4 linked regions of the Homo sapiens genome follow. The protein of the gene in region 1 interacts with the protein of each later gene in a pairwise test. Each region holds a gene or a part of one and is shown in the gene's direction. Other genes may lie near its edges.

Region 1 (6,304 bases):
TTTTAACTTATTGTTAAATAGAAATTTAATGAATTTTTAAAAATATTGACCCTTTAGTCATCCACTTGATAAACTTACTACTTCTAATATTTTTTCTGAAATTCCTTTGTGTTTTCTGTGTGGATAATTATATCATTTGCAAATAGTGACAGTTTTAGTTCTTCTAGTTATTTTTGCTTTTAATTTATTCATTTTTTTGGTCTTAAATGTGCTGGCATACTTTATACTTACGTTCAATGGAAGTGATTAGGGTTGTTCATTAGAAGCGATTATAGTGGGCATAGAGTTCTTGTTCTCAATTTTAAAGAGAATATTTCTCAGCTGAGAATAACATTTGCTGTGAATTTTTGTAGATACCTTTGATTAAGTTAGGGAAGTCTTTTCAGTTGTCACATGCTTTTCTGCATTTGTTGAGAATATCTTGTGTCTTTTCTTCTTTAATCTGTTAAATGTAATGAATTCCGTTTTATAGATTTAAAACTGTTCATTTTCTTTTATATTCTTTCTTGAGATAAACCCAAATTGGTCTTTATAGATTATATTTTTATGAACTACTAGATTGAGTTTGCTCATATTTTATTTAGATTTTTGTGTCTGTTTATGGCTAGAATCACTTCTCATTTTTCTTTATTGGCTGTCTTATCTGACTTGGGTATTAAAGTTACACTGACTTTATACCATGAGTTAGAGAATAGTTCCTCTTTTTCTGTTCCCTGGGAGAGTTTGGATTGGAGTGATTTGTTTCTTAAAAGCTTGGTGGAACTTAACTATAAGGTCATTTGGATCTAATGTTTTCTTCTTGGAGGTTTAGTAGTAATTAGCAGTTGAACAGTCATAGGACTGTTCAGGTATTCTATTTCTTTTAGTCAGTTTTGGTAAGTTTTAGAAATTTGTCCTTTCATCAAGTTTATGGTATGGTTTTTTTTTTTTTTTTTTTTTTTTTTTTTTTTTTAAGATAGAGTCTCCCTCTGTTGCCCAGGCTGGAGTAGTGCAGTGGTGCCATCTCATTGCAACCTCTGCCTCCTGAGTTCAAGCGATTCTCCTGCCTCAGCCTCCTGAGTAGCTGGGATTACAGCCGTGCGCCACCATGCTTGGCTGATTTTTTTGTATTTTTAGTAGAGACGGAGTTTCACCATGTTGGCCAGGCTCTTCACAAACTCCTGACCTCAAGTGGTCTGCCCACCTCGGCCTCCCAAAGTGCTAGGATTACAGGTGTGAGCCACCGCTCGTGGTATGGCATTAATTCTCTTTTTAATCTCTGTTTTATTTGTATATGTGTTCCCCTTTTCTCATGTTGAATATTATTTATGTCTGACTTCTCTTTCTTGATCAGTCTTAGTAAAAGTTTGTCCATTTTTAAAATCTTGGCAAAGGATTAACTTTTGGCCTAATTTGTTCTATTATTTGTTTTTTATTTCATTGATCTTTTTTCTCTTTTATTATTTCATTTTACTTTCAGTTTATTATTTTACTATTTTTTTCACTTAAATTACACACTTAATATTAATTTTCAACCATTCCGATTTCCTAGTATAAGCATGCAAGACTGTAAACTTCCTCAAAGTTCATTTTTGCTTATCTAACATAGTTTAATTTATAGTGTTTTCATTAACTTTCAAATCTAAGTATTTTTACAATTTCTATTTTGATTTTTTCTTTGACTTATGAGTTACTTAGACATTTTTAAATTTTCAAATGTGTCTATATTGTTTTCCTTTAATTATCGATTTCTTACTTGTGTTGCCAGAGAATATTTTATCTTTTTAGCATTTTTTTTTTTTTGCCCTTGCTTTATGGCCTTGTACATAGTGAATTATTAGAACTGTTCTGTGTACACTTGTGAAGAGTATATATTCTGTAATTGTTAAGTGTCTATTAGGTAAAGCTTGTTATTTGTGTTGTTCTGATAGTCTTTATCCTTATTAATTTTGGTTTATCCTATCATTAACTGAGAGAAGTGTGTTGCAATATTCCACCATTACTAGTTTCTAACAGATTTCCTGTAGTTCTAACAATTTTTGTTCTTCTGTATTTTGAGACTTTTATTAGCTACATGCAAGCTTAACATTTTTTTCCTAGTGGCTCGAACCTTTACTATATTGTGATCTTCTCTAAGTTTGCTTCTTTGTCTTAGAGGCTTTTTGTCTGATCCCGTCTTTCTTTTGGTGCTAATTTACCTGGAATATTCTTTTCTTTCATTTTACTTTGATTTTTTTTAGTGTCCTTACATTTTAAGTGTCTCTTATAAGGGACATACTACTGGATTTTTCTTTTAATCTCACCAGACAACTTCTGTCTTTTAATTGGTTATGTTCCAGGTGTCTTGGTTGGTGTTTGACTCAGTTTTAGATATTAAAAAAAATCTAAAAGTATTTTTATTTTACCTTTGTTCTTGACAGATCATTTTGATGGATGTACAATTGTAGGTTGGTGTTTCTTTTCTGTCAGTAGGGTAGGAATACTATTCTGCTGTTGCTTATACAAAGTGTGCTGCCAGTTTTATTTATGCCTTTTTTTTTTTTTTTTTTTTTTTTTTTGAGGTGGAGTCTTGCTGTGTTGTTAGGCTGGAGTGCAGTGGCGCCATCTTGGCTCATTGCAACCTCCGCCTCCTGGATTCAAGCGATTCTCCTGCCTCAGACTCCCAAGTAGCTGGGACTACAGGCACCTGCCACCATGCCTGGCCAATTTTTGTATTTTTAGTAGAGATGGGGTTTCACCATGTTGGCCAGGATGGTCTTGATCTCTTGACCTCGTGATCTGTCCGCCTCAGCCTCCCAAAGTGCTGGGATTACAGGCGTGAGCCACTGCACCCAGCCTATTTATGCGTTTTTTGAAGAAAATATCATTTTTCTTTTAGTTACATTGGATTTTCTGTCTTTTGTGTTACATCATTTCACTTCTAAGTCTAGATAGAGATTATATTTATCCTATTTTGGATGCATGTGTTTCATGATTCTGCATTTTGTCTTTCATGAGATCTAGAAGTTTCTGAGCCCTGTATTCTTTAAATATTATGTCTCATTAGTCTCTTCTCTCCTGCTGGAACTTTAACTGGATATATATATACACTAAACTGTTTCCAGATCACTTATTCTTTATCTTTCATATTTTTTATCTCTTTGTTTCTCTTTACCAGAATTTACAGTGCTGGATAATTTCATAAGGCATATATTTTAGTTCACCAATTTTCTCTTCAACTGTGCCTAATATCCTCTGTAACCCATCCTGTCTCTTTTTTTTCTTTTAACAATTGCATTTTTAATTACTTTTTTTTTTTTTTTTTAAGATGGAGTCTCTCTCTGTCGCCCAGGCTGGAGTGCAGAGGCGCGATCTCAGCTCACTGCAAGCTCCGCCTCCCGGGTTCACGCCATTCTCCTGCCTCAGCCTCCCGAGTAGCTGGGACTACAGGCGCCCGCCACCACGCCCGGCTAATTTTTTTGTATTTTTAGTAGAGACGGGGTTTCACCGTGTTACCCAGGATGGTCTCGATCTCCTGACCTCGTCATCTGCTCACGTTGGCCTCCCAGAGTGCTGGGATTACAGGCATGAGCCACCATGCCCGGCCGCATTTTTAATTTCTAAAAGTTCTGCCTGGTTCTTTTTTGATATGTCCAGTCATTCTTCATGTTCTCATGTTATATGCTGATTTTTGTGACTCTATAGCTATTCTGTAGACTATATCAGACATTCCCAATGTCTGATATCCTTGAGGAGGGGGATGTCTAAATTTATTGCTTTTTTGTTTTTTTTTCTGTTGTCTCTCCTCAATGTAGCTGTCACCTCATGTGTTTGGTGATCATTGATTATGAACTTCTGTTTGATCTTTGTGGTGATCTTGAGAGTCTAATTTGAGGATGCTTGCTTTCTGAAAGCATTTCTATCAGCTTTGTCTGGGAGCCAGAAAGTTTAGCTGGCATCACTTTTGAGTTCCTACATTTTGCTTCTGGCCCAGGGCTCAGTGTCCTGATCCTATTACTGCTCTTGGCACCACTACTTGTAGCACTAAACTGTAGCCAGGTTTAATTTCTAGCTCAAGGTTTGTTGCTTTTGCGTGGAGAGGGTGCCTTCACATGTTCCCCTATTTCTATGAGCTCAGCAAAAACATCCAAAAAGTGTTTTTTTTTTTAATCTAGGATATACCTTTTTCCTCCCAACAGTACATTCCCCCAGAGTGTATAGTTGACCATAACTGATGGGATCAGAAGCTCTTTATTTTAATATTTAATTTTAGTAGTATATTTTTGTTTGATTGTATTATAAAAAATTTTATGGTACCAAGCAAGCTTTCTTGGTGATACCAACATTTCCATTAAAACTAGTTTACATCTAAGTTAAGATTTGAGTTATCCTAAAGAAAAGTATTAAGTAAATAGCAGTACAGATGGCAAATGGATTGCACAATATATCCTCTGGATCCATAGTGACCCTGCAGAGATAAACCTGTGATGGTCAAACAATGTGAAAACTGCTGTCAGAGACATGGGCAGGGTGCTCTTGTTTACAGAGAAGAGGTGCAAAAATCAACTTGATGGTAGTGGGAAGATCAGGAAATGCTTCCTGAAATTGAGTATTAAGAACTAATAGACATTAGGTGGTTGCAGAATAAGTTTTGTTTAGGAAGGACAAGCAGTTGGGTATGACTGGCTTCTAGGTTGTGTGTTGTGGAGTGACTGGGGATAAAAGCAGGAGCAAGATCACAAAAGGTCTTCTATGCTTATATTAGGGAAGTTGGACTTTATTCTCAAGCTGAAGGGAAGCTGTTGCATGGTTTTAAGCAGTAAAGTGATATGATCAGAGTTTTAGAGGATGCCAAGATTGAAGGCAAGTCTGACCAGTTAGGAGACTGCTTGTTAAATTAGTTCAGAGGAGAAACAGTGAAGGCAGTGGCACTGGGCATGAAGAAGTATATGTGTGCTAATTTTAGATTTCTTAGGGAAGCAGAAATGACAAGAGTTAGTGGTCCATTGGACAGAAATATTGAAGGAGACTGGGGAGTCTAGGTTGACTCCCAGGGTTTAGGTTTGGGCAGTAAAATGACATGTAGAACAATTAACTGATAAACAGCATACAGAAAGAGGAAAGAACTTCATTTCATATGTTTGTTTTTGAGGAAAAGATGTTTGTTTTTGAACTTCCTGATTCAGAGGGGCTTGTGGGACATCTTGGTTAAGATCCTGTAGTAGTTCTAGTAGGGTCTAGAAGTCAAGAGATACAACCCCGCCTGGAAGGATTTGGGAGTCTTCAGCATTTGGAATTTTGGAAGCCATTGTTTACTGCAGTGCATATGAGATAATTTAAACTGGTACATAGATAAACACTTGAAAAAATTTTAATAGATAGGAATTTAATGTGTATGAGAAACATAACTTGCACATCTAACCTTTGATAATCATGGACATTATCACTTAGGCCAAGTGAGCTCAATAAAAGGGAAATATTAACTAAAAATATATGTGATACATGGAAATGGCAAAAATCACGGTGAAGCTATGCAAACGATGCAAGTTCAGAAAGTGCTGTGTTAAGTCATGGGTGTGGTGGATAAATTCACCCAAGGAGAGAGTAAGAGTGAGAAGAAAAGAGAGTTGACATTGGGTGGCGGGGAATGGAGAAGAAGAACCCATGAAGGAAACTGAGGAAGAGCAGCCAGACGAATAGGAGGAAAACCAGGAGAAGATGGTCTTTGGAGTCCAAATGAAGAGTTCTGAGGAGGAAGTGGTCCACAGCGTCAAGTAAGTTGTAAGCTGAAAAGTGCTCTTTGGATTTAGCAATTAAGGTAGACTATTTAGCTGGAAGCATCCAAACAGTGGATTTTAAAAATACTCATCTAACATTAATGTTAATGATAGCTGGTATTTATAGCATTTCCCATATACCTGGTACTCTTCTAAGCTCTTTACATGTATTAACAGATTGATCAGGTAGGTAGTATCGTTATCCCCATTTGATATGCGAGGAAACACAGAGGAAGCACAGAGAGGTTAAGTAACTTGCCCAAGATCACACACCCAAGGAAACAAGAGAGCCAGGACTCAAGCCCAGAGTCTTGGCTGCAGAGTCCCTGTTCTTAACCACTTTGTCACATTGCCTCTCTAGTTAAAAACAAAATACAAGGCCGGGTGCGGTGGCTCACGCCTGTAATCCCAGCACTTTGGGAGGCCGAGGCGGGCGGATCACAAGGTCAGGAGTTCAAGACCAGCCTGGCCAATATGGTGAAATCCTGTCTCTACTAAAAATACAAAAATTAGCTGGGCGTGGTGGTGGGCACCTGTAGTCCCAGCTACTTGGGAGGCTGAGGCAGGAG
Region 2 (6,304 bases), on another chromosome or scaffold:
AAATATAAAATTTTCTCGTGTCAAATATTTTATTTCTCTCATTAAATAAGGAGGGATCTAACAGTGATGTTACAATTCTTGAATTCAAAAAATACAAACTCATAGAAAACCAAGAGTGCCTCAATGAATTACCAACAGATGCAAAATGGACTATTACAAGGGCAGTCAGTAATCCACTGCATCTGTGACACAGTTCATCTTCATTTCTCTGGAAAAAAAAAAAAACCATTTGTATTACTGTCAGTTTTCTACAACTTACAGGGTTGTAAAACAGCTTCAAGACAAAGTCAGAGATAGCCTGGAAGGGTGCCCTAGACAGGACACCCTGTAATTTTTAATGCCCATATAAAAGTCTTTCATAATTTTTCATGGTACCTTTAAAAATCCTTATCGTAAGTAATAAGTAAACTATCCTAGGGCTGATTGTGGCTGTTGACTGGAGGAGATGGTAGAACATTGGCAACCTTCCTCTGTGGCCTTCTTTTTTAACTGTGAACTAAAGACATGGTGGTACCTCCCTAAAATTGTTCTACGGGGTCTGAGAGAGCTGACTAGTGACCATGAGCCCTCTGGGCTCCTCTCGGATGCTCCCCAGAGAATACAGAATTAGAGAATAACCCTTTAGCCTAACCTCTACTGTCTCTCCGGTTTATTTTATAACACTGAGTGGTAGGCAGAAGACAGGGAAAGAAATCGCAAGCTGCTTATGTGGCCTGAACTGCGGTTTGTTTCCCTCCTCTTTCTTCAAGGCAGGCCTTGTTCTGATGCTTTTCTGTAGGTAAGCAAGGAGAGAATTAACATTGCCCATGTCTCTGGGACTGGGCCTGTGAGCTGCTTTTGTTTTTTGGCCATTGAGGGCCCTTGAGTATTGGTTTTGTAACTCATTTTTTTCAACAGACTTAACAAAGTGTTCCCACCAGAATTTCCCACCAGAACTTTGACTTGTCTTCTGCTCACAAATGTTTGTGTACCTCAAAATCTGATGTGAATGACTGGGTTTTAATTTAATTGCTTAAATGTAAAGTTTGCCCTTTCTGGATCCTGAGTTCTTCTGTGCACAGCCAACTAGTTCAGAATATTTGGGAAAGGACCAAACAATGGAAGTCATGGCTGCTTTGCTGGCTTGACTGCCATCGTGCCTGGCACGATGCCTAGTTCTTGGTTTTGGTGGTCTCCCCATTAGGTTCCCCATCTCTTAGGTTCCCACTGCTGCTATTTGGCCATTTGCCTGCCCATCAGGCCCCTGCCCCAAGGTGTGAACGGGAGGAGGTCTAGGTGGCTACTTAGATCGAGGAACCTGAGAAGAAAGTGGACAGCTGTTGAATCAGAAAATAGTTCAAAATTTTCTGGTTTTTGTTTTTCCATTTTCTTTCTCAGTCATTGCCACAGCCAATTTAGCTATTTAATCTTTCCTCACAAGGCTTTTTCAAAATAGATAAATAGGAAAAGAAAACCACTGTTGGGAAGTTGGTTTATTCTTAGTCTGACCACTAATTTGCTCAAATATATATCTAGATATAGATATCTATATATACATATATATTTTGAGATGGAGTCTTGCTGTGCTGCCCAGGATGGAGTGCAGTGGCGTGATCTCGGCTTACTGCAACCTTCATCTCCTGGGTTCAGGTGATTCTCCTGCCTCAGCCTTTCAAGTAGCTGGGACTACAGGCATGTGCCACCATGCCTGGCAAATGTTTATATTTTTAGTAGAGACGGGGTTTTGCCATGTTGGCCAGGCTGGTCTCAAACTCCTGACCTTAGGCGATCCACCCACCTCAGCCTCCCAAAGGACTGTGATTACAGGTGTGAGCCACCGTGCCTGGCCCAAAGAGTATTTTTATTTTTGAGACAGAGTCTCACTCTGTCGCCCAGGCTGGAGTGCAGTGGCACGATCTTGGCTCACTGCAACCTCTGCCTCCGGGTTCAAGTGATTCTCCTGCCTTAGCCTCCTGAGTAGCTGGGACTACAGGAGCACACCACCAGGCCCGGCTGATTTTTGTATTTTTAGCAGTGACGGGTTTCACCATGTTGGCTAGGATGGTCCCGATCTCCTGACCTCGTGATCCACCCACCTTGGCCTCCCAAAGTGCTGGGATTACACATGTGTCACCATGCCCGGGCAAAGAATATTTTTTGAAAAATAATATAAGTAATATTCCAAGCCTGGGCTGTTCTGGGCTGGACTGGGCTGAACTCTGCTGTCATTTTAAGGTCATGGAGGCGGAGCAGACCAAGACCAGGAGCGAGCTGGTGCATAAGGAGACGGCAGCCAGGTACAATGCCGCCATGGGCCGCATGCGACAGCTGGAGAAGAAACTCAAGAGAGCCATCAACAAGTCCAAGTAAGTCTGGACAGGGCCTTCCCTGGGGCCGTGCGGCTGTCCTAGTCTGCATCTTCTCAGCCTTTTGTATGTCACACACTCAAGGACCACCCTGAGTAGTCCTTTGATGTAGACCCTGGGGCCTCACCAGAGCCCCCCTGCTCAGGCTCTCTTTCCCCCTAATATTCTATGACCCCCAGAAGCAGAGGATGCTAAGGGGTGGGCTGCTCTAGATATGACTAAGTTAGGAAACACAGAAAAAGGAATTTCAAAGGCACATTATTAAATGGCCCATTGGCTGGGATTTGGTAAATTCACGCTGTACTCTGGGATCTGTGGTTGACAGTGTTGTCAAGGCCCTATCCCTCAATTTATCTGTCAGTGTAATAGGGATGAGTTGTGTTCACAATACATGTTTCCTGTGATCAAGAGCTGATAAAATGCTGTAAGACTGGCTTTAGTAGAGTTTTTTTTTTTTTCTCCAATCTCTTCTCACTACAGCCCTGTATATTTTTATACAACATTGATAATGGTGGGCAGGCACAACTGTGTACCCTCTCTTGGGGACAAGCCCCCTGCTTCATTCCCAATTGCTAGGCCTCCTAGCAAAAGGAGGAGGACTTATGATGACCTAGACTTAACAGCCAAAGATAGACCCAGAGCAGGCTGTGCAGGGCTACTGAATGCCTGTTCTCCAGGTGTGGTCACAGCCCCAGCCAGGAGGGGCTGGGCAGTTGGAAGCTTGGCAGATGCCCAGTCCTCATGCAAGTGAGGGAAAGGTGACAATTCAGTGAGGAAGAGGATCTGCAAGGAAGAGTTTGGTCCTCCTAGGCTCTGTACTACCCCCCAGTACCTTCACCCAGGCTTGACTTTTCTTTAGTTTCTGCTCACACTCTTCCAACATACATATGTACACATACATGCAGAGGAACACCATTTAACCATTTACTATTGCACTTAATTGACTAGTGTATTTTTGTTTTGGTTTGGTTTTTGGTGTGTCAGGGGCTGATCTCCTGAGAGCTAAGTAGTAGACGTGTATATGGCATTTTTCTGCAGGGGAGGCAGGAGGTGGCGAGGGTTGTTGTAGGACCTGTGCCTGCTCTGGGCAAGCCCAGGCATCATCCACATGCCAACACCCAAGGAGGCCGAGGAGCAGCCTTTGATGCTGCTTCCTTTGGTGTGAATATGGTGGGTCTTTTCTCAAAAGACCCCGAATTCACACTGCACACACATCACATACTCATCCATTAACCTGTTTAAGAAAATAAATCTTGTGATTGTACTTTGCCAACCTTTTCAGACTCCGAGAAGAGTACAGGGATAGATCGTAGTCTTGGGTGGCTCCTGTCTGCCCAAAGGTTAAAATGTACATCTGTGCATTCCACAGAGTGGCTTCCAGGCCACCTCCATGCCCACCCTGCCTCTCCAGCCACACTCCCTTGCATGGATGCTCATGTTCCTTTTGCTGGGACATCTTCCCTGTGCCCTCCGATGCCCATTCACACACATACTCTTCACCTTGTGCTCCTTTTGGTCACACGAGAGAGCTTATACACCTCTCTCTCCCCCCAAATTTCAGGATTTTCATACCCACCAATGGCAGTCCTGTGTCCTTGTCATCCATCTGGATCCTCAGGATGCAGGACTTGAGAGCTTCATGGAGGGTGAACAGCTCAAGAATAAAGCAGTGATCTACTCTTAATGTTCAGGCACCAAAGTTCCTAAAAAAGAGCCAAGCTCTTTCAGCTGACCCAGAACCAAGGGAACTGCTAGGACGCTGGCATTTCTTGGGCCCATTATGTGGCTGAGTCAGCCAACTAATAACTCCAGTCTTTGGACAAGGTTTGGGAGGACCAACCTGAGACCCCCTCCTAGTGGTGGCCTTGCTGTGCTGTGAGGGAGGAGTGGTGCTTCTCTCTCTTCCCCAGTTGACTTCAGTAGAGGAGGAGGTTTAAGCAGCCCCTTCTCCAGCCTCAGCTGCTCTTCATCCCTGGGGAGCCAACTTCATTAGGAGAGCAGATCCAGGCCACCCTTACTGCTGGGTATAACCTGTGAGGCTCTGAACAGCCTTCCCACAGAGGAGGAACATGAGCTAAGTTGCAGAGTCCCCAAGATATGTGTGTGTGGGTTCCCCGTGTCTTGAGATGGGCCTCCTGTTAATATAGCCCTGGGTGAGCCCAGTCGTTCCATCTGGTGTCTGTCAGTCTCCAGAGCTAGGAGCATCACTGACATGTCACGGCCTTGTTAAGAGTTTACTAAATATTGGAAGGACGACCTGGCCAGTGGTAGCTGATGCCTCTTGTTCATCTTGTGGAGTTGACTGTGGTCACTGTATTATATTACTCTGATGGCTTTCCTTCCTGTCTTCTGCAGGCCTTATTTTGAACTCAAGGCAAAGTACTATGTGCAGCTCGAGGTATGTGTAGCTTTGGGCTTCGTCACTGATGAGATTTTTCTGCACTCAAAGCTTCACTTTTCTGGGGTAGCAGAGTATCACATGGGCCACTTGCTATAAGGGGAAAGTGGAGAGACAGGCTTTACTGAGTTTTCAGACCTCAAAATTGTCTCGGTTGGGTCTTCAGTGGTCTCTGAACCTCTGTAACTGCCATTCAGTCACCTTCTCTGTTGTACTAGGCCAGTGGTTCTCACAGCATGCTCTTAGGACCAGCAGCATCAGCATCACCTGGAGACCTGATAGACCAGGTCCCACTCTAGACCGACTGAATTAGAAACTCTGAGGTTGGAGTCTAGTGAGCTGAGTCTTAACACCCAAGGGGATTTTGATGCAAGCTCAACTTTGAGAACCACTGTACTGGGAACCAGATGTCTAGACTGTGGGACTTTGGTGTGTCTGATGCCCATTTTTGCTTCCCTGATGGGGTTTGTTCCACCAGTGAGAGTTTTTGGATATTAGAGGTTGTCACCTGGATGGGATCTGGGGATGGTGGTGGCTGATTTTGTCTGGTGAATGAATAGCAGTTACAATGGTAATTAGGTCTTCAGTCATGTCTTGGAAAATTCCTTGAAGTAGAATGATGGGCAGAAAATGTACTTGAACCTGTCATTCAGAAAGCATCTTAAGGCTAGCAGGGTAGTCTTCACTTAGTCTCCTGTTCTCTTGATCAGCAACTGAAAAAGACTGTGGATGACCTGCAGGCCAAACTGACCCTGGCAAAAGGCGAGTACAAGATGGCCCTGAAGAACCTGGAGATGATCTCAGATGAGATCCACGAGCGGCGGCGCTCCAGTGCCATGGGGCCTCGGGGATGCGGTGTTGGTGCTGAGGGCAGCAGCACATCTGTGGAGGATCTGCCAGGGAGCAAACCTGAGCCTGATGCCATTTCTGGTAAGTCAGGGGCTCCACTGGGTATGTGGGGAGATATCAGACTGTGTGATTTGTTTCCCAAGGTCCTCACTTTCTCTGGCCATCAGTGAAAGGTCTCAGAGTTGGGCAGGCCTGAGGGCTATTTCTGGTGGGTTCCCATGTTTTATGGAACACTGTGTTCATTAAGAAGGTACTAAGTGTTCCTCAAAGTCAGGATTCTGTGGTCAAATAAATTGGGAAAATGTTACACCTTCACTCCTCTTTGAGAGTCAAAGTATACATTTGAACATTCAAGGCTGAGAAGTCCTGCAGGAAAGAAGAGCTGTAATCAGATTTGATTCAAAGCTACCTTTACATCATTACTAAGGCATGATGTGGGCAAGGGCCTAACTTTGTATTTCAGTTTCTTCACCTGTAAAATGGGGAGTATGACGCTATCTACTGTATACTATCCGTTGTGTAGGGTGGTGGTTCAGCTTACATGAATCAACCCCTGACACCCAAGAAGCACTCAGCAAATGGTGGCTCTTACTGACATCTGACCATAGAGACCTCTTTTCCCAGGGCCTCCCCCTGGAAAACTGATAGAAGTTTGACTTGGTTTCTGTCATGCTCATCAAGAAAACCCACCCAACGCTGTCTTTGCATACTT
Region 3 (4,359 bases), on another chromosome or scaffold:
CCAGCACAGTGAGCTCCTCCTTTTGTTCTTTTTTGCAGGATGACTTACTGTCTCTGAAGGTTGTAAGTGTGCTACACCATCTCAGTATCAAAAGGGCCATCCAGGTCCTGAGGATCAATAACTTTGAACCAAACTGTCTACGGAGGCGGCCATCTGATGAGGTAGTGTTTTAAGATTGAGGTTTATAAGCATGCACTTCCCAGGCATGGGACTGTCCATGTGTCGAAACTAAGAGCCATTTTTCTTGGAGCCTGCAGGAAAAGCCTTAAAATCCAGCCTCATTTACTTCTTAGGCTTTTTCTGTATTCCTTCCTTTTCTCTCCATGACGGTTCCCCTTGTGTAACTAAAGCCAAGGGTTCTTTTTCAGTTATGCTTCTTCCTTTTCTTGGGTGTATTTTTTTTTCCTGACTCTAATCAACAGAGATAAATATCACTATAAAGACTTCCTTTTCTGGCCAAGTATAGTGGCCAATGCCTATAATCCCAGCACTTTGGGAGGCCAAGGCAGAAGAATCACTTGAGCCCAGGAGATCAAGACCAGCCTGGGCAACATAGGAAGACCCTGTCTCTACAAAAATAATAATAAATTAGCCAGGCATGGTGGGTGCACGCTGGTGGTCCCAGCTACTCAGGAGGCTGAGGTAGGAGGATCCGTCTGAGCCTGGGAGATGGAGGCTGCAGTGAGCCCTGATTATACCACTGCAACGCCAGCGTGGGTAAGAGAATTAGACCCTGTCTTAAAAAAAAAAAAGACTTCCTTTCCTAAAGCAATGCTTTATTAGTATATAAGAAAGCTTGAAACTCAAACTATGACAGAAATTCTTTAAAAGAGAATTTTTCCCTTTCTTTTTGCATTTAGTGGGTTGTTGAGTAACTGTACTCCATGGAGCAGACTTTTTAGACAGAAAATGCAATTTAATATTTAGGATCCTGGTTGTGTGTTCCCATAGAATACCATCGCCCCATCAGAAGTTCAGAAGTGGACTAACCATCGAGTGATGGAGTGGCTGCGCTCCGTGGACTTGGCAGAATATGCGCCCAATCTCAGAGGCAGTGGTGTCCATGGTGGGCTCATGGTAAAGCTCTGATTTAATTTAAAATTGACTTACTTTGCTTCCTTTAGTCTAGTCAGTAGGATATTATCAATTTTTGCTTATCATAATCCTAAAGTCATCTGACTCAACCCTCCTGCCCTATTTCTAGTAAACCTTTACTTTCAGAGTATTTGTATTGATATCTTATAACTCTAGATTGAATTTAAAGCCAGTTCTCTTTTATTGTCCTCTTTCATGTTGAATAACATGTAGCTGCTTTCTCTCATATGATCATGTTTGAAAACCCCTGCAAGGATGCAGATTGTATTTCTGCATGTTAATGTTGCTTAAGGAGGTGGCTCCCACAGACAGCACCCTAGAGAGGCAGAGCACTGATATTGGGATGCCTGAAGCCTGGATTTCAGGACCAGCTCTATCACTCACTAACTTGGGAGAAATGGAGAAAAGATATGTAAATTAAAGATCAAAGTCCATATTGTGTCTACCTCACCGGGCTGTTGAGAGGATCATTGGAGATAACCTAAGAGAAAGCTTTGCAAATTATAAAGCACAATACAAACATGTATGATTTGTGGTGACTTTTGACAAGCTTTTTTTTTTTTCTTTAAACAGGTTCTAGAGCCTCGTTTTAACGTAGAAACAATGGCTCAGTTATTGAACATCCCACCCAATAAGACTTTGCTGCGAAGACATTTGGCCACTCATTTCAACCTTCTGATTGGGGCTGAGGCACAGCACCAGAAGCGAGATGCCATGGAGCTGCCGGATTATGTACTTCTAACAGCTACTGCCAAAGTGAAGGTTGGTTCAGGCTCATACGGTTTAATAATTGCTTGGCGCAAAGGCAACGTTTTGTCGGTTACCTGGTTATTCTGTTTTCTGGGGTTTACTAAGTTTTGTGGGTGGGTTCCTTACCAGCAGATGCAGGAATCCTCAGCGCTTAGTTGTCTTGGGAGAAAGATGTTGGCCAATAGACAGTTGACAGATAGAGAGCTTTATTGAAGGGAAATAGGGAGCAAAGAGCTTATTGTAAGAATAAAAAAAAAAGAAGAAGAAGTACAGGGGCTGATCCTGCAGGGAAAACAGCAGGGTCGCAGTAACAATGTTTATTTAAAGGGACAGTACACTCCAAAAACCAAGGCACAGCGGGCTGCTGAAAGAGAATGAGCCCAAGAGTTCTGCATTGGGTTTTTATGATGTCCAGTTTTTTCTTGAAGCTCTCACCACTGTGTTAAGTCTCTGCCTTTTTTATCTCGTTTTCCCGCTCCTGCCTTGAGTCCTTGCCTTCTCCCTGCCTAGTTCCCAACCCAGGCTTGTGGGACCCTCCCTTAACTATAGTTGGTGCGCATGCGTGGGCCGGGTGTTGGCTGCACTTCCACCTAAAGGCTGCATTGCTCATTCCCGCCGCCCCAGGAAGGTTGTATACCAGTCAAATCTATACGTACTGTACCTGCGTTTCTCTTAGGAATTCTCCTTTACCTTCTTCCCCTCTTTATCAGCATGCAGCTAGCTACATTCTGGCAGGTGATCTGCAGAGTGAGTGATTACTGGGCGTCTTAAGGGGCGTTCCTTTCTGCATAGGTATTTCCCCTCCTCTCTGCTCAAATGGAGCATGCATGTTTTGGGTGGTTTCTGGGGTGCGAGATTTTCCAGACCTCTCTTTTCTCAGGGGCTTCCCCTCATGTCTAGCTATCTGCCCACTCTAACAAGTTGAAGGAACAGTTGACCCTTGAAGAACATGAGTTTGAATTACACAGGTCCACTCCTACTCGGATTTTTTTTTTTCAAGCAAATGTGGAGGGATGCAAACCCCACATATAGGGAGGCCCAACTTTTTAGGTACACGGGTACTGCTGGACTTGAGTATGTACGGATTTTGGTATACATGGGGGTCTTGGAACTAATGCTCTGTGTATACTGAGGGACAACTGAGTATATATCTTTTAAAAGTATAATAATTAAGAGAATGCACCCAGATAGCTCAGTCAGTAGAGCATCAGACTTTTAATCTGAGGGTCCAAGGTTCATGTCCCTTTTTGGGTGTTCCCTCTTAGGTGGGCATGGTGGCTCATGCCTGTAGTCCCAGTGCATTGGGAGGCCAAGGCAGGAGGATCACCTGAGTCCAGTAGTTCAAGGCTGCAATGAGCTCTGATTGAGCTATGAGCATGCTACTGCACTCCAGCCTGGACAACAGAGCAAGATTCTGCCTCTAAAAAAATAATAATGAACAGCATAATATTGGCTTCCATAATCCATGTATTGGCAATGCAGACAGCCCATAACTTGGGTCCAAATATTGATTGCAGTTGTTCTGTTTTTATAAATCAAGTACAGAAGAGAGGTTTCTCTTGTACAGATTTAGCTTCTCTGGCTTATGATTGACCAGCCTCGTAAATAGGAAAATACACTTTAAAAATGATTGAAGGTGGGCCAGAAGAGAATGGGTATTTCCTAGTTTACCTGGATTTATGGATCATACCAAATTCAGATTACTTTTTCTTCTTTAAAATTAATCCTAGATTAACTCTTCTAAATATGTTATCCCAACCAACTTGATGGGTTACTGGGTCCTCCAGAAATTTGTGCCAAAGTTCTTTTTAATTTTTTTTTACCCCCTCTATCTGCCTGAGTATCCAGTGACCAACCCAGTGACCATCATGGAGTTTCTCTTCTAAGTATCACTGATGTTTCCTCTCCAAAAAATTCTTTTAGCAGTCACCAGTCCTGTTATGGAAGCAGAATAGGCATACAAGATAATTATAGCCTCACCCAAAGAAAAAATATAGTGAAGTCTATTCTATTTTGCTAATCTTAGATTGAAAAACCTTGCAAAATTGGATTCAGCTGTGAGAAATCTCATTGCATTAAGTCCTGTCTAATCAAAACTATGAAGCCAGGTGCAGTGGCTTGTGCCTGTAGTTTCAGCTACTCCAGAGGCTGAGGCAGGAGGATCCCTTGAGCCCAGGAGTTTGAGGCCAGCCTGGGCAACATAGCAAGATTCTGTCTCTAAAAATAATAGTAATGATGTAATCAAATTATTCTTGCCATATTTTGTTTATCACGGTGACTATTCAGCTATTTGGCGTGAATAAGAAGAATAAGGTTAATTTCCTGAGATTCATAACAAGGGTCATTTATCATTGCATCATTTATATGCCTAGGATGCCCTTTTGTTTTTATCCATATTTAAACATCCAGCTACTTTTCTCTCTACCATGGGGTAAATAATTAAATTATACATATAGGAGGGAGGGGGCAACGCAAAAAAAAATCACATGTTATCAGGCCTTGATTATATGAATT
Region 4 (6,304 bases), on another chromosome or scaffold:
AGACAGTCTACCCTGGAAAAAAAGATTCATGAGCTAGAGAAACAAGGGACCATTAAAATTCAGAAGAAAGGGGATGGGGATATCGCCATACTGCCAGTTGTGGCTTCTGGCACATTGTCCATGGGGTCAGAAGTGGTAGCAGGTAACTCTGTGGGACCCACAATGGGGGCCGCTTCCTCAGGACCCTTGCCCCCTCCTCCACCACCACTGCCTCCCTCATCAGACACACCTGAAACAGGTAAGAAGCCTTGGCAGGAGGACTGAGGAAGTTTTGGAATATTTGTATTTCTTCTTTTGCCAACTGTCCACTTCTGTCCTTTGTCCGTTTTTGTTGGCATGTTCTTTAAGAATTGGTTTTCTTGAGTAGTTCTTAACTGTTTACATTTTGAGATTAAATTTATAAATCCTCATTTCACATATGTTGAAATATTTTTCCCACATGTCAATGAGGACATTTTTTGGTTTTTGAAAACAGTCCTTTGTCCTTTTAAGTGTGTTGTTTTCAGATGGCTTTATATGCACATGGCTTATTGCAGGAAAGCCATTCCCGTATTTTCAAAGTCCATCTGTTTCTTTTTTCTTTGCTAGTGCAAAATGGTCCAGTAACACCACCTATGCCACCGCCGCCGCCGCCCCCTCCTCCACCTCCTCCTCCCCCACCGCCCCCTCCGCCTCCTCCTCTCCCAGGCCCTGCAGCTGAGACTGTACCAGCTCCTCCCTTAGCACCTCCCCTTCCCTCTGCACCTCCGCTGCCTGGAACATCTTCACCCACAGTGGTTTTCAACTCAGGATTAGCAGGTAAGAGCACAGAATTCAAACCCAGGTACTCATATCAGAAATGCTGTCTTATCTCGGAGAGTTGAAGCTATTCTTTCAAAGTCCAGGTCTCTTGCAATGATGTGTATCTCTTCCTAGTATAAGAAATTCCTGCTGATGTAGCCGATAGAGGGAACATCATCACGCATGGGAGGCACTTTGCTCTGAGTAGTCTTTGTCACAACCACACCCCACAATGGGAGGTTCTGATCTCCTACACCATCTTCCTGCCTTCCACTGGCCCCACCGAGAGAATGGAAGAGAGACAAGCTACCTGCTTGAGGATCAGTGCATTTTTGTGGGTTCAGCAGATACTTTCTGGACACCTGTAGTATTCAAAGCTCAGTATTAGGCACAGACATTGAGTGCTTCTGGATCTTTTTTTTTTTAAATGGTATTTTTGATGTCATCTATAAAAGGGAAACATGCTTTTATGTGTAATTGCCTGACGTAGGCTTCCAGGCATGTCTTCTGAGCATTCGAGAACATCAGAATTTGCTAGAGTGGATTTAAACTTCAAGGAGGAAGTGCTGCCAACAGCCGTATTATCATGCCTTAAAATGCTGCCAAATAATTCATGTCCTCTTGCCAACCAGAAGATAGAAAACAGCATCCTCACCTCACCAGAAATAAAATGGGAGGTAGGGGTTAGAGCAGGAGGAAGAGTCACTCTAATGCCTTGAAATCTAAGCTCTTTGTTTTGACTCACGGAAACAAAGATGACGCTACGAGCCGTTTTCTCAGTCCTGAAGTGTTTCCCTGGCATCTGGAATTGCTCTAAGCTTTGCCATCCCTGTGACGTGGGGTAATTCTGCCTCCTCATTTACTTCAGCCTGTTCATGAGGTCTCTTATTTACAATAAAGAACTACCACTCTAATAGCCTCCATTTCCAAGGCTGTGATAGTTCTCAGAGCCTTTTGCCCAAAGTCTAAAAGCCAGTCTTAGCTGTAAAGATTTCCCAATCTCCATCCCTTCCAGGATCCCATCTGCAGCTCTGCCAGCCGGTCACTGGGGCTCATTCATCCCAATGACTGGAGCCCTTTTGGATGCCCCAGAGTCACCTAGAATAAATTCACTCCACATCAAATCCATGGTTTTACTTCCACCCCGACTTCTATATAAAACTGTCAGGGAAACAAGATTCCAGTTCACAGTAAGGTCCACAGTAAATCGGTGACTTATTTCTACCCTTCAAGATCTTCCCCGTCTACCACTTTCTTCTAGAACTTTTATTACTTCTGAAGGAGAAAAGTTGGAGCAGAGTCATCGTGGAACTGATGGACTATGGAATATAAACAGACAAACAAGAAACCTCATATCAAGCCCCGGGAATGTGTTCCATCACCAGGCTGTTGTCAGTAACTGGGTGTGGAAACCCATTATCGTCCCGTGCACCTGGCCACCCTGATTAGGCACTCTTGGTAGCCCCCAAGGCGCACTTGCTGTGAGATGTGTCTGCTGTGGTATCTCATTTGGGGCTGCTTCCTTTGTCTCTGACAAACGCTGATGTGTGATTTAGCACCCACTTCCACGCACCTGAGCACTAACATAGACCTCAGAACCGCCTTAGCCGAGTGAGAGCCCAGAGGCTGAGATGTGTCTAGAGCTTCCTTCCAAGGGGCCATGTCCTGTGTGATTGATCTATTTATTAATTGTTTTGCTTGGGTTCTTCCCACTACTTGATTTTAAAAATGTGTTGGCTCTGTCAATTGCCTCAATATTTTAAGGTGTAGAGCTCTGTGCTTGGCTGATAACCAACTGCTTTTAGGGTTTGCTATACTTGGAAGTGGTCCCTGTTGTGGCTCATGCAATTTAGAGGACTGTAGGTGGGAATACAGGAACTCTTTATTTCCATAAGTGTCCACTAAATGATTGTGAGGGATGTCTTGGAAGCATTATAAGATCCTTGTGAGTCTTTGATAGCTCGAGATCAGGCAATTTCTCCAAGGCCTTTAATCTTTCTTTATTATTCATCCTTATTTAGACTGTTAATTCTTAGTGATTGAAGCCCATTTGGTGAGATGTTTTGCTAGTGTGTTGAGTAACTCTCTCTCTCACTCTGGAACCAAGAGGCCAGACAGAATCAGGATGCCCAGTAGAATGAAGAGACAGAGCTGAGCTAATATTCTGAAGCCTCCTGGGAAGTCAGAAACCTATGACATCACTTGGCCTCTGGACCCACAGGCAACACGAGGGTCTTATCTCTTCAATGGGCAGGTGTGTTCTTGGAGACCAAGACAGAAGACCAAGAGGAGAGCCCCATAGTTTATCTAGTTGAGAGTTTTCTTTGTATTTTATAGAGAAAATAGTAGTAGTGTGAAATATGCATTTGAAGAAGAAGGCTTCCTTCCTCTCAAGTCTGTGATAGAACAACCTGGCTCCCTTTCCCCCGGTAGGTCACCTGAGACAGGCTGCTGAGCAGGTGGAACCTTTGCCGTCTGTCTGGGAGGATGTGCTCGGATCCTCACAATGCGAATTTGGACTTTGGTTGATTGTTTTTCATGTAAAAATTATTCCTATCCTATGGAATGCCTAGCACAGTTCAGTATTGCTGTTTGGTACCACTACGATGAAATAATTTTTTTCTTCCCTCTTCTAAAAAGGATAATTTTAAAAATGAAATAGTTGAGTCTTGGAGGCAGGCCTGAATGGAAATGAATTTTTGGCTCTGTGCCGCCTTGTGAAATGTGTCCAAGAAGCATGAAATTCTATGCTGAGTGCGTGAACTGCTGAGCCACTTGACTCTAACCATATCTAATTTTTTTTGTATTTTCTCTGTTCTTTCTGCTTCCACAAAAGATGGGCCAATCAAGCTTTTCTGTAGGTTGCTCCTCACTGAGTGTGTTGAGTATTTGCCATGTGTTTCTGTTGGTCACACTGTGCCTTGACATCTTTCCACTCCATTTTGCTTTGATCCATTGCATTTTGACTTTGTGTCTGCGGGAAGTCTTGGTGGTGGCTGATGATGATTCCAGGTTTGCCCACACATTCTAGTTGAACCTACATAAGAGACTATTGTCCTTGAAGCAGACATCCTGGATTCATATGCCCTCTTCCATTTCCTCTGAGAAAAGGTTTTTTTTTTTTTTTCTTCTTCTTCTTTTAATTTTTATATTTGTATCTGAGACTTCAACTCTAAGAACAAAAAAAAGGTGCCAGGTGCCCCTTTTCCATTCCCTCCCTCATGCTGGTCTCTGGCCCACTCCAGGGAGCACTCACCCGCCTTTAGCCCGAGCCATGGGGACACAGTGTGTCCAGTGGTCACCTATGTGCTTTCCTCCTCTTCCCACTCCCACCCTGGTTAAAGCCAGGAAAACCTTTCCAAGGAGGAGAACTTTCTTGCCTGTGTTCTGATCTCAGGCTTATTCCTGACCTTGCTAAATAGTTAGAAGGGTGGTTGCAAATGGCAAACTTCTAGCGAGCGTCATGAGCCTACCATGTCTGTGGGAGGAAGGTAGGACGCCATTGGCACCAACCTGTCACCTCAGGTTATGAAAAGACTCCTCTGCGGCCCTTCTGCTGCTCCCCAGATCCCTAACATTGCCGAAGTGCCAGAGGCAATGCTAGGGCAAGTGCTAGAGGAAAGTCTGTTCCTTTGTCCCATCGAGAACATCTGTTTTCCTGGGTAGCGTAGACAAAATGCTGTACGGTGAGGAATCTGACACTGTGGCGTAGTGGGGACAAAGGTGTCATGTTTGGTGGTGGAGAGGCCTGGTTTGGCTAAAGCTGTGTCTGTTTTTCTGCATGCTTTTGTGTGGATTTATCAGATGACATTCCTGCTGTTTAAATGGCCTTTGTAACTCTGGAGGAATGAGAGGCACTGTCTGTCTCAGTTAACGCCAACTGAGGCAGGCAGGCAGGCAGCCAGCTACAAGCTTAGTCGTGTGTTGCTTTTATTTTGTTCTGCACTGAAGCGCTGAAGTTCTCCTCCCTGTCTTGCTAATAATGACAAATAGTGAAGCTCCCAAGTAGTGTGGTAGGCTACCCAGAACAGACTGACGAAGCTGAATGTGTATGGCTAAATGGTTTGGGAAGACTTCTTTATGATATATAATAGATAAATATAATTTTAAATGGATTACCTTTTTTGGCATATTCCCGCACAGTGAGAGGAGTTGGCACTCCCCATAGTCCCTTAAAGATACATCCCATTCTCTCTATTAAGAGGTTTTCAGTATTTTTAATGAGTGTGTAGATACCTCCTAGTCAAACACAGCTGACTCCTGGGAAGAACTTGCTTTTCAAAATGAAGGGCAAGGGACTGTGGCTATTTCTGAGTCTGAGAATCCATACAATTCCTTCCCTTCCCTCCCCTCCCCTCCCCTCCCCTCCCCTCCACTCAATTCCCTTCGCCTCCCCTCCCCTCCCTTCCCTTCCCTTCCTTCCCATCTCAAAAAAGAGGAGTTTCCTCCCTTCCTCCCTTCCTTCCTCTTTTTTGAGATGGAGTTTCGCTCTTGTTACCCAGGCTAGAGTGCTATGGCGTGATCTCGGTGCACTGCAACCTCTGCCTCCCGGGTTCAAGCGATTCTCCTGCCTCAGCCTTCCGAGTAGCTAGGATTATAGGTGCACACCACCACAACTGGCTAATTTGTGTATTTTTAGTAGAGACAGGGTTTCACCATGTTGGCCAGGCTGGTCTTGAACTTCTGACCTCAGGTGATCCACCTGCCTTGGCCTCCCAAAGTGCTAGGACTTTGAGCCACCACGCCCAGCAATTTCTTTTCCTTCCCCCCCGCCCCTTTTATTTATTTATTTTTAAGACAGAGTCTTGGTCTGTATGTACCCCTTTTTTCACTCTGTTGTCTTAAACATTTTCTTAGGCTGGGCAAGATGGCTCACGCCTGTAATCCCAGCACTCTGGGAGGCCGAGTGGGGAAGCTCGCTTGAGTTCAGGAGTTTGAGACCAGCCTGGGCAACATGTGAAACTCTGTCTCTACAATAAATATAAAAATTAGCCAGGCATGGTGGCACACAGCTGTGGTTCCAGCTACTTGGAGGCTGAGGTGGGAGGATTGCCCGAGCCTGGGAGGTCAAGGCTGCAGCGAGCCATGATTGCGGCACTGCACTGCAGCCCGGGTGACAGAGCAAGACCTCAAAACCTATTTTCTCATTTAGGCCATTCATATCCCTTAGTCTGCTTGAAATAACCCAGCAGCCAATATATCTTCATTATCGGAATCACCCACAGGAAGTCAGCCTTCATGACGTTGTACTTCTGGTAGTCTAGTCAGCCACTGTCTGCAGTCCCTGATCATCTTCTAAGGTTTGTTTGTAAACATGTGGTCTGCAACCAAGAATTTAGGATGTCCAAATATGGCAAGTTTTTGCCCTCTCTGCTATCTAGTAACATGAGTAATAATCTTTGCTCTCCAACACTTTTTATTTGTCCCAACCATTGTCCTAATATTGTAACTGTAATGCAGCAAATTAGTTGCCTGAGTTAAAAGAAAAAAAAAAATCAACCCTTGGCCCTTAAGACGTCTTTTA

The links.
Region 2: the proteins of TTC3 (region 1) and SH3BP5 interact in a two-hybrid assay, tested with the Homo sapiens proteins (one large-scale study listed by BioGRID and IntAct).
Region 3: the proteins of TTC3 (region 1) and PPFIBP1 interact in a two-hybrid assay, tested with the Homo sapiens proteins (one large-scale study listed by BioGRID and IntAct).
Region 4: the proteins of TTC3 (region 1) and FMNL2 interact in a two-hybrid assay, tested with the Homo sapiens proteins (one large-scale study listed by BioGRID and IntAct).

Annotation. Positions count from the first base shown.
Region 1 is NC_000021.9:37,078,600-37,084,903, forward strand, and holds part of TTC3 (E3 ubiquitin-protein ligase TTC3), read left to right. Parts: intron 1-4,347; exon of another isoform or gene 4,348-5,732; intron 5,733-6,304. UniProt on the Homo sapiens protein: E3 ubiquitin-protein ligase which catalyzes the formation of 'Lys-48'-polyubiquitin chains. Mediates the ubiquitination and subsequent degradation of phosphorylated Akt (AKT1, AKT2 and AKT3) in the nucleus.
Region 2 is NC_000003.12:15,258,200-15,264,503, reverse strand, and holds part of SH3BP5 (SH3 domain-binding protein 5), read left to right. Parts: intron 1-5; exon of another isoform or gene 6-208; intron 209-2,214; coding exon 2,215-2,345; intron 2,346-3,921; exon of another isoform or gene 3,922-4,700; coding exon 4,701-4,743; exon of another isoform or gene 4,744-5,453; coding exon 5,454-5,673; exon of another isoform or gene 5,674-5,870; intron 5,871-6,304. UniProt on the Homo sapiens protein: Functions as a guanine nucleotide exchange factor (GEF) with specificity for RAB11A and RAB25. Inhibits the auto- and transphosphorylation activity of BTK. Plays a negative regulatory role in BTK-related cytoplasmic signaling in B-cells.
Region 3 is NC_000012.12:27,687,347-27,691,705, forward strand, and holds part of PPFIBP1 (liprin-beta-1), read left to right. Parts: intron 1-38; coding exon 39-161; intron 162-951; coding exon 952-1,077; intron 1,078-1,668; coding exon 1,669-1,857; intron 1,858-3,489; exon of another isoform or gene 3,490-3,780; intron 3,781-4,359. UniProt on the Homo sapiens protein: May regulate the disassembly of focal adhesions. Did not bind receptor-like tyrosine phosphatases type 2A.
Region 4 is NC_000002.12:152,618,921-152,625,224, forward strand, and holds part of FMNL2 (formin-like protein 2), read left to right. Parts: coding exon 1-238; intron 239-588; coding exon 589-798; intron 799-2,041; exon of another isoform or gene 2,042-2,171; intron 2,172-3,616; coding exon of another isoform or gene 3,617-3,637; intron 3,638-6,304. UniProt on the Homo sapiens protein: Plays a role in the regulation of cell morphology and cytoskeletal organization. Required in the cortical actin filament dynamics.